2 separate regions of the Homo sapiens genome follow, and region 1 is linked to region 2. Evidence: fine-mapped expression QTL. A gene starts in region 2. The other region holds a variant in brackets. All regions are shown on one strand. Distances are from middle to middle.

Region 1 (5,533 bases), 50 kb after region 2:
CTTGAGCCCAGGAGTTCAAGGCCAGCCTGGGCAGCACAGTGAGACCCCTGTCTCTACAAAAAGTAATAAAAAAAATTAGCCAGGCTGGTGGTGTATGCATGTAGTCCCAGCTATTTAAGAGGCTGAGGTGTGAGGATTACTTGAAGCTGGGAGGTCCAGGGTGCAGTGAGCCATGATCGCATCACTGCACTCCAGCCTAGGATACAGAGAGAAACGCTGTCTCAAAAAAAAAAAAAAAAAGCATTATTCTTTTTGGAAATCAATTTTAAAATATTTACTTTGGACATTTTTATTTTAATAATTTTAAATGGTATACATACGGCTAGAAACTGAAATGACACAACAGTGAAAAACAAAGCTCCCTTTCTCCTCTTTCAATCCTCCCAATTCCTCAGTTCCTCTCCCCAAATTGAACTACTGTTACCAGTTTCTTATGTAACCTTCCAGAGATAGTCTTTTCAAATAGAAACATATATTTATATTCCTTCCCCCCATTATTGTTATTTACATAACTGAACAAGTGATTTTGTACTTGACTTTGTTTACTTAACAGTATTATCTTGGAGGTCAGTCCATGTCAACCTGTATAATTCTTATTCCTTTTAACATCAGCACAGAATTCTATTACCTGTATATGCCATGATTTATTTCACCAGTTCTCTATTGAAGAGACATTTAAGTTGTTTCTAGTCTTTTACTATTACAAAGAATGCTGTAATGACTATTCTTTTCTTTGCGCATATATGAGAGTTTTTGTGCAGGATGAATTAGCAGAAGAGACTTTGCTGGGTCACAGGGTATATACATTTTTAATTGTAATGGTCATTGCCAAATTACACAGGACTTAAACAATTTACATTTCCCCAATAATATGTTTGGGAGTACACTTTTTCCTCCAACTCTCACCAACACAGAACTTTTTTAAACTTCTGTTAAGATGGAGCTTTTATATAAGATGTTTTGTTCATTCATTAGCTGTTTAGGTAGAGCCTGTGATTTACTGTTCGTACCAACAACAGTGCACCAGATCCAAGAGTGCATTTTGGGGGGCTCTAAGACTGGATGAAAAAAGAAGCAGAATAATTTACAAGCAAAACTTCTGATCTGCTAACTTTTTGACCTTCTGCTCTAAGCCTGGCACCAGGGAAACTAGGTGAAATAAGCCATGCTTTCACTCAAGGGCTATAACAGTTCTCCCATTAATGTGAAAGTGGCTGCTAGCACATTCCAGTTGCTACTTGAAGAATGGATCCCAAATATCCACTTAGGCTGAGGCTTCCACCAATGCTTGAGAAGATGTGGGTGGTGACTACACAATTCCTTCTTCCATTTAAAGTTGTTTCTCTCCACCCTGACACATGATTAAAACAATAGTAAACAAAAGAAAAGTCATTTGCCACACCTAACATGTAGTATGCGCTACATTTCTAACCAGGGATTGGTTATAGAGTTTGTTTTGTTTTGTTGGAATGAAGGAAAAAGGCATTTCTTTTGTTCTTTTGTTTTTTGTTTTTTTTTTTTTTGAGACGGAGTCTTGCTCTGTCGCTCAGGCTGGAGTGCAGTGGCGTGATCTCTGCTCACTGCAAGCTCTGCCTCCCGGGTTCACACCATTCTCCTGCCTCAGCCTCCCGAGTAGCTGGGACTACAGGCGCCCGCCACCACGCCTGGCTAATTTTTTGTATTTTTAGTAGAGACGAAGTTTCACCATGTTAGCCAGGATGGTCTCGATCTCCTGAACTTGTGATCCGCCCACCTCAGCCTCCCAGAGTGCTGGCATTACAGGCATGAGCCATCGCGCCCAGCCCTTATTTTTTTTAAGCAGGAGGTGGAGGGAGGTGGGAAAGTTTTTTTCTTTCTTTTTTTTTTTTTTTTTTTTAGGAAAAATCTATGAGAAGCAGGGAGATTATTATTTTTATTTTCCCCCTCTTACTAACCACTATACAAATGAGAAGGGATTAATTATTAGTTATGAAAATCATTGGTCTTTGCAAAATTATTCAAATAAATGCCAGTTACCAGCTCTACCTAAACTGACTGGACGAAAGCCTATATTTAAGCTTACTATTGTGTTTGTTAATTTCTAATAAAACCTGCTCCCCAAATGGTCATAATCCAGAAGGAAAAACTAAATTATTGAAGAATTTGAGCATTAAATTAGGCCATAATCAGCCTATCGTGCCTACTTGATATTACGAAGTTAGCATTGTTGAGTGCACACTCTCCTTGCCACTCCTCCCCTTACCTCATATAACCTAGAGAATCA[T/C]GTTATGATACTCTAGGATCACTCACCTTGGATATCAACTGTCAGACTTTGATAAACTCCCACAGGGATTTAAAAGCCTCTGTACTATCTGTGGTATGCCAGATCCAGAAGCACATAGGGACTCTAGACTGGATGACAAAAGCAAGAAGAATAATTTACAAGTAGAACCTGTGATCATTCCATATACACTTGACCCTTGAACAACATGGATTTGAACTGTGCAGTTTCAAAATATGTGATTTTGTTTGTTTATTTGTTTTTTGCTTTTTTGAGACAGGGTCTCACTCTGTTGTCTAGGCTGGAGTGCAGTGGCGTGGTCTCTGCTCACTACAACCTCTGCCTCCCGAGTTCAAGTGATTCTCCTACCTCAGCCTCCCAAATAGCTGGGATTACAGGCGTGTGCCCTCACGTGCAGCTAATTTTTTTTTTGTATTTTTAGTAGGGACGGATTTTTGCTATGTTGACCAGGCTGGTCTTGAACTCCTGACCTCAAGTGATCCACCTGCCTCCGCCTTCCAATGTGCTGGGATTACAGGTGTGAGCCACCACACCTGGCCATGAATTTTTTTCAATAAATATATTGGAAAATTTTTATCAGTGACAGTTTCAAAAGACTGACAAATGAACTGCATAGCCTAGACATATCCAAAAAGTTAAGAAAAAGGCATGTCATCAATGCATAAGATATATGCAGTTACCAGCTATCATTCACTAACGTAATACACAAATCTATTATAAAAAGTTAAAATTTATAAGAACTTATTATACACACAAACAGATCTTACATGGGCCCCATTCACAGTCAAGAGAAATAAAACAAATGTAAAAATGCAGTATTAGGCTGGGCAATGTGGCTCACGCCGGTAATCCCAGCACTTTGGGAAGCTGAGGCGGGCAGATTGCCTGAGCTCAGGAATTCGTGACCAGCCTGGGCAACAAGGTGAAACCCCATCTCTACTAAAAATGCAAAAAAATTAGCTGGGTGTGGTGGCAGGCGCCTGTAGTCCCAGCTACTCCGGAGGCTGAGGCAGGAGAATCGCTTGAATCTGGGAGGTGGAGGTTGCAGTGAGCTGAGATTGCACTGCTGCACTCCAGTCTGGGCGACAGAAAGAGACTCCATCTCAAAAAAAACCCAAAAAACCAGATTGTGTATTTATAGAGTATGTTGTTATTTTATTAAAAGTTATGTGTAAAAATTATACAAATAAAACTGTGTGTAACTACATAATTATATATAATTATTATATATTATGTGTGTAACTACATGTAATTATATATTAAAATATAGTTATATATGTCTATATGTAAAATTATATCTATATCTTTATATAGATAAGCAGATAATATAAGCAAAGGAAAAAAGCCTGATGTAATATGTACCGAAATGTTAGCCTAAGGACTAAAACCTCAACCTGGGATTGTAAAAGCTTTTCTTAGTATAAAAGTTTAAATTTTTTTTTTTTTTTTTTTTTTTGAGACAGAGTCTCACTCTGTCACCCAGGCTGGAGTGCAGTGGTGCGATCCTGGCTAACTGCAACCTCTGCCTCCCAGGTTCAAGCAGTTCTCCTGCCTCAGCCTCCTGAGTAGCTGGGACTACAGATGCCTGCCACCATGCCCGGCTCATTTTTGTATTTTTAGTAGAGACAGGCAGGGTTTCACCATATTGGCCAGGCTGGTCTCGAACTCCTGACCTCAGGTGATCAGCCCACCTCGGCCTCCCAAAGTGCTGAGATTATAGGCGTGAGCCACCATGCCTGGCCTAAATGTTTTTTAAAAAGCAATCATCTTAAAACAAATTTATGGTACAAAATGAAACATTTTAAAATGTACATATTACTAGTTATATACAATCACTTTTGTCTCTTTCTTTTCAATGCTCGTCTGTACTTTATACTTGTCAAAATTTACATATTTTCCTAGTTTTCTTTGCTTTATTCCTGTTGTATGCTCAGGGTCAGCAGCTTGCAATAAACCACAGTTTAAAAAATAATATTAGGCTGGGCCGGGCGCGGTGGCTCACGCCTGTAATCCCAGCACTTTGGGAGGCCAAGGCGGGCGGATCACGAGGTCAGGAGATGGAGACCATCCTGGCTAACATGGAGAAACCCCGTCTTTACTAAAAATACAAAAAAAAATTAGCCGGGTGTGGTGGCGGGCGCCTGCAGTCCCAGCTACTCGGGAGGCTGAGGCAGGAGAATGGCGTGAACCCGGGAGTCGGAGCTTGCAGTGAGCCGAGATCGTGTCACTGTACTCCAGCGTGGGCGACACAGCGAGACTCCGTCTCAAAAAAAAAAAAAAAAGGCTGGGCACAGTGGCTCACGCCTGTAATCTCAGCACTTCTGGAGGCCAAGGTGGGCGGGTGATCACCTGAGGTTAGGAGTTCGAGAGCAGCCTGACCAACATGGTGAAACCCCATCTCTACTAAAAATACAAAAATTAGCCTTGTGTGGTGGCGGACGCCTGTAATCCCAGCTACTTGGGAGGCTGAGGTAGGAAAATCGCTTGAACCTGGGAGGCAGAGGTTGCAGTGAGCCAAGATCACACCATTGCACTCCAGCCTGGGTGACAGAGCAAGACTCTGTCTCAAAAAAAAAAAAAAATTAGATAAAAGTTGTGATTATGATCTTAGTGATAATAATGTAAAATAGAGCAAGTTTAGGTAAAATTTCTAAAAATAAGCTTTCTTGGGGAAAACCAACACACTCACAAATGTTACTCTCAAGTGTTACTCAAGAACCTTTCAGAAGGGATATCATGTGGAATCCTTCAGAATCTCTTTGTTTGTATGTCCCTGGAGACAGACACCAAAAACTTCCAGGAGCATTGCTACTCTGTGTTTCTTACTACAGCCCAATTGGCACAATGGGAACAACTCTGATGCTTTTAATAGCTGTAAGAACTACAGTTGACCCTTGAACAATGCAGGGGTTAGGGTTAGCCTAAGTTAACTACTAACAGCTTTCTGATGACTATTTATGGATAATGTAAATAGTTGATTAACACATATTTTATATGCTTGTACTGTATTCTTACAATAAATTAACCTAGAGAAAAGAAAATGTAATTAAAAAAATCTTAAGGAAGAGAAAAATACGTTTACAGTACTGTAAATGTATTTATAGACACTGTAGATTTATGTCATCTGTTTACAAGATGAATTGTATGCCTGAAATAGCGGGCAACTGCAGCTGCAGGCCTCAATCTCCAGTACATATCAAGTAATCCAACTTCTGCACTGCAGCCTGGGCGACAGAGGGAGGCTTCATCTCA
Region 2 (5,000 bases):
TTTGGCTATATGAGAATATCTGTAATCAGAAATGGCTTATAAAGGGATTTTCATCAAGGAATGTAGTTTTGTAACAAGTTCAAATTCCTGCTGGAAATTTGTTAAATACCACTGGTTCTTTGCATCATGTTTCCAGCAAATCCCTATGTATATTGCCTCATCCTGTGGAGTGGCATAATTCAAATTAAACTGGGAGAATAGGGGTAAAAAGAGAACAAGATATTTTGAGGCTGGAGACAACTTTCTGACTTTAAGTGTTTCACTTCCTCTTTACCTGCTTCTATTGCACAGGGCAAATAGCTTACAGTATATATCTAATGAAGAGGATTAAATAAATTAATACTTTAAACCCTTAAAATGATGCTTGAGGTCAGGTGGGGTGGCTCACGCCTGTGATCTCAGCACTCTGGGAGGCCAAGGCAGGTGGATCACGAGGTCAGGAGTTCGAGACCAGCCTAGCCAACATGATGAAACCCCATCTCTACTAAAAACACATAAAATTAGCCGGGCATGGAGGCGTGCAACTGTAATCCCAGCTACTCAAGAGGCTGAGGCAGGAGAATCGCCTGAACGCAGGAGGCAGAGGTTGCAGTGACCCAAGATCACGCCATTGCACTCCAGCCTGGGCAACAGAGCAAGACTCCGTCTTGAAAAAAATAAAAATAAAAAAGGATGCTTGACACGTAACAGGTGCTCAGTAAATGTTGGCTATTATTTAGTGACACATTATTTAATAATTGAGTCAGTTTCCTCATCTGTAAAATGAAAATAACATTGTAATTTCTTTGCAGAGTCTCTGAGATAATAAAGTACACTGAATATCAAGCATTTGATCTTTGCTATGATTATTCACACCGCCATGATGCAACTCACTGTCTCCAAGGAGGTCCAAATAGCCCTATTAAGACTGTATTGGTCAGGTGCAGTGGCTTACGCCTATAATCCCAGCACTTTGGGAGGCTGAGGTGGGCGGATCATTTGAGGTGAGGAGTTCGAGACCAGCCTGGCCAACATGGTGAAACCCCATCTCTACTAAATATACAAAAATTAGCCAGGCGTGGTGGTGTGCACCTGTAGCCTCAGCTACTGGGGAGGCTGAGGCGGGAGAATCGCTTGAACCCGGGGGGTGGAGATTGCAGTGAGCCAAGATGGTGCCACTGCACTCCAGCCTGGGTGACAGAGTGAGACTGTCTCAAAAGAAAAAAAAAAAAAGACTGTATTATGACTTTCCTGAGACCTAGGCACTTTTGCCTTCAAGGGCCCCTTCGTCTAAGTTATTAAAAATAATATTTTATGACTGCATTGGTATAAAACGAACATAATACAGGCTGGATTCGTTATCATATTCATAAACATTATGGTTTTTTTAAAAAAGAAATTTAAATTAAAAGACTTTCGTAGACCCCTAAAACTATCATGGGTTCAGGCAGGAGAATCGCTTGAACCCAGGAGGCGGAGGTTGCAGTGAGCCAAGATCGCGCCACTGCACTCCAGCCTGGGCAACAGAGTGAGACTCTGTCTCAAAAAACAAACAAACAAAACAAAACAAAACAAAAACCTCTCTTCCTCCCCAGTTCATCTGCATCTCATTATTGGGCGGCACGGTACTTACTGTGCCTAAAGAATAAGTTGGCCCTGAGCCTCTTTACCTGTCTACATATTACCTGTCTTCATATTCCTTAGCATAGGTGGGCTTCTCGGCAAGATGACTTTGCATCTGTGGGACTAGAACCTAGCCTTTGGGCAGGTGGAACGCAACAATAAGCTTGTGCCCTAGAGATACAGATCTCAGCTCTATACCTTTCTAGACTCAGCTTCATCCGCAAATTAGCATTAATTGGGATGGTGAATAACAACGTTTTAGAAATGCTAATAATGTAAACACGATCTATCTGGCTACTTCAGGAAAACCCCTCATATAGCTCGTGCTCCGTCTCTCCTGTCAAGCCCCAAGCCCACAACTTGTCCCGGCTCCCTCCGGATCCCACCAAGGTCACCCTGGAAGCGTCCTCCCTTTTCTCGCCCCGCACCCGCTTCACGCCCGTTCTCCCTAGGCCAGCACCCACCAGCAGCCTTCGGAAAGCCACGAGTGAGGAAGCCCCCAAATCCGAGGCGAGTGCCAAGGGGCCGGCCAGACAGAGCTGCCACCGCAGTAACCGAAACCCGCCGCAACAAACTCATGGCCGCCATGGCTACTACGGGCAGGAGGAAGAAGGGAGGCGGGTCACGGAAGCTGAGAGAGCCAATTTACCAATGAGGACAAAGGCAGGATGTGGCCATCTTAAGTGAGGGCAAGTTTTCTATTCTCCTCACCGCCGGCTTGAGACGCCGGAAGTGACGCTATCGTTGGCGGAAACGCGTTTTGCCAGTTATGCGAAAACATGGCTGCGGCCGGTTTGGCCCTTCTTTGTAGGAGAGTTTCATCCGCCCTGAAATCTTCCCGATCGTTAATAACTCCTCAGGTCCCTGCCTGCACAGGGTAAGTGATGTATAAAGTAGGTTTGCCCACCTCTCCAACTTTGGATCTTGTTTGGTTGCCGAGATGCCGAGATGCCGAGAACAACTCAAGAATGGAACGGCCGCCTGGATGGCAGAGCCGGAGCCCACTTTGGTGAGGAGTGAGTGACCTTGGAGAAGTCGCTCACCTCCGACATTTCTATTCCTTCCTCATTTTGTTGCTGCCTGCTGTGGACAAGACAGTATATGGGGTTTGTAGATGTCCAGCATTTGTTGAAGTAAATACATCTATAAGTACAGAAGCATCCTCTTGGGCTGGGTGAGGTGCGAAAAACTTTACCGAAGATGTTTTTGTTGTGATACTCAAGTCTGTGTCAAGTTTGGATGGATTAAAAAAGAAGAGATATTTGTATTTACAGGATGTGTTACAATGAAAGTAACTGGTAACTTAGTAACTTCTTTTATTTATTTATTTTTCTTGGTCCTGGATCCAGTGAAGTATCCATTTATTACATTGGTTGCCATGACTCTTTAGTCTCTATCCGGAACAATTTCTTTTTTTTTTTTTTCTTAATGTTGTTGACATTTTGATGAGATTAGCTTTTTAAGAATCTTATTCATTTGGATTTGTCTGATTGTTTCCTCATTATAAGATTTAGGCTAAATATTTTTGGTAGGGATACAACACTTGTGATAAACTTCATTATTTAGTTTCAAATCATCTCAGGTCGTTAACTATTTTTTAAAAACAGGATTTTTGAATTACTGCATAATAATTTATCATCCAGATGCACAGTAATTTTTAAACCATTCTTAGCTGCGTATTTACATAATTAAAAACTTGACATCCTATATAGTGCTTTAATAAACATCTTAATTTATAAATTCCCATCTATAATAATTTTTTCAGTTGAAACTTCTAGATGCAGAATTACTGAATTAAAGGAGGAAGTATTTGAGGCTCCTGATACATGTTGCAAAATTGTGAGGTTTTTTTGTTTTTGTTTTTTGAGACAGGGACTGACTCTGTCGCCCAGGCTGGAGTGCAATGGTGTGATCTCAGCTCACTGAAACCTCTGCCTCCCAGGCTCAAAGCGTCCTCCCACCTCAGCCTCCCGAGTAGTTGGGACTATAAGGCACGTGCTACTATGCCTGGCTAATTTTTGTATTTTTGTTAAAGATGAGGTTTTGCCATCTTGCCCAGGCTGGTCTTGAGCTCCTGGGCTCAAAGTGATCCTCCCACCTCGGCCTTCCAAATTTCTGGGATAACAGGTGTGAGCCACCGTGCCCAGCCCACATGTTGCAAAATTGACTGCTCTTTTTACCTGCGCTTGCACCCATTAGCAATGTAAGAAGGACCCAAAAATGTTACCTTAAAATATAATTGTGTAACTATGTTACCTCTGAAATTATAAGGTAGCAGCTTCTATAATGCAGTATTAACAATACTTTCTAAAGCATTTTCAAAATTTATTGTGGCCAAGCATGGTGGCTCATCCCTGTAATTCCAGCACTTTGGGAGGCCAAGGTGGGAGGATCACTTGAGCCCAGGAGTTCGAGACCAGCCTGGACAACATAGTGAGACCCAGTCTCTAAATAAGAAAAAAAAATTAATTCTTGTGCAGAAACCCTGAGTAGCTTTTTAAAATGTTATCGATGACAAAATGATTATGTTTATTATGATAATGTTTATTGCTTATAAAATCCAGATATTATAAAACTTTTACTTGTTTATGTGTGTTCAATTGCAGGTTTTTTCTTAGTTTGTTGCCTAAGAGTACACCAAATGTGACATCCTTTCACCAATATAGATTACTTCATACCACATTGTCAAGGAAAGGACTAGAAGAATTTTTTGATGACCCAAAAAACTGGGGGCAAGAAAAAGTAAAATCTGGTGAGATACTTGGATTTGTCAACATTAGATATATTTATGGAACCCCCCCCCCCGCCCCGCCCAACCATCGTTCTAGGATTATATATCCAGTTTAGGAATTATTTAGATGTTTCCTTTTTCAGTTTTCTTTGAGACTGTCTACTAGAGAAAATTAAAGGGACAATATAATAGTAGAGTTAATTGTTCCTTGGCAGATTGGCAAGATGGTTAGATAAGGAATAGGCTGAAATTATTAACTAAAGTAAGGTTTAGGGCTTATTTTAGATTTTATTTTTTAATGATAATTTAAAGTTTGTTTATTTATTTAGAGATGGAGTTTTGCTCTTGTTGCCCAGACTGGGGTGCAGTGGCACAATCTCAGCTCACCGCAGCCTCTGCCTCTCGGATTCCAGTGATTCTCCTGCCTCAGCCTCCTGAGTAGCTGGGATTACAGGCACGTGCCACCACGCCCGGCTAATTTTGTATTTTAAGTAGAGACAGGATTTCGCCATCTTGGTTAGGCTGGTCTTGAACTCCCAAACTCAGGTGATGCCCGCCGTCTTGGCCTCCCAAAGCGTTGGGAATACAGGTGTGAACCACCGCCCCAGTTAATTTATAATGACAAAGTATTTTGTCATTAGGGTGTGAAAATACGTTCTGTACTAAT

Evidence for each region. PIP is the estimated chance that this variant, and not a neighbour inherited with it, causes the effect. A credible set is the group of variants that fine-mapping cannot tell apart.
Region 1: its variant is the best candidate, but not a certain one, in a credible set for the expression of NDUFB5 in lung (TOPMed, PIP 0.56).

What each region holds. Positions count from the first base shown.
Region 1 is chr3:179,551,520-179,557,052 of GRCh38, reverse strand. No RefSeq gene overlaps it. Among named protein-coding and RNA genes, the nearest start is that of ACTL6A, 8.6 kb to the left of the region's middle. The variant T/C (reference allele first, on the strand shown) is at 2,264.
Region 2 is chr3:179,602,006-179,607,005 of GRCh38, reverse strand. It overlaps NDUFB5 (NADH:ubiquinone oxidoreductase subunit B5), which reads right to left and starts at 2,212. Exons shown (of 6, transcript NM_002492.4): 1 at 2,067-2,212. The coding sequence starts at 2,190. It overlaps MRPL47 (mitochondrial ribosomal protein L47), which reads left to right and starts at 2,368. Exons shown (of 7, transcript NM_020409.3): 1 at 2,368-2,479; 2 at 4,209-4,354. The coding sequence starts at 2,382. RefSeq lists enhancers at 1,627-1,716, 1,747-1,906, 1,345-2,211, 2,087-2,286, 2,212-3,078.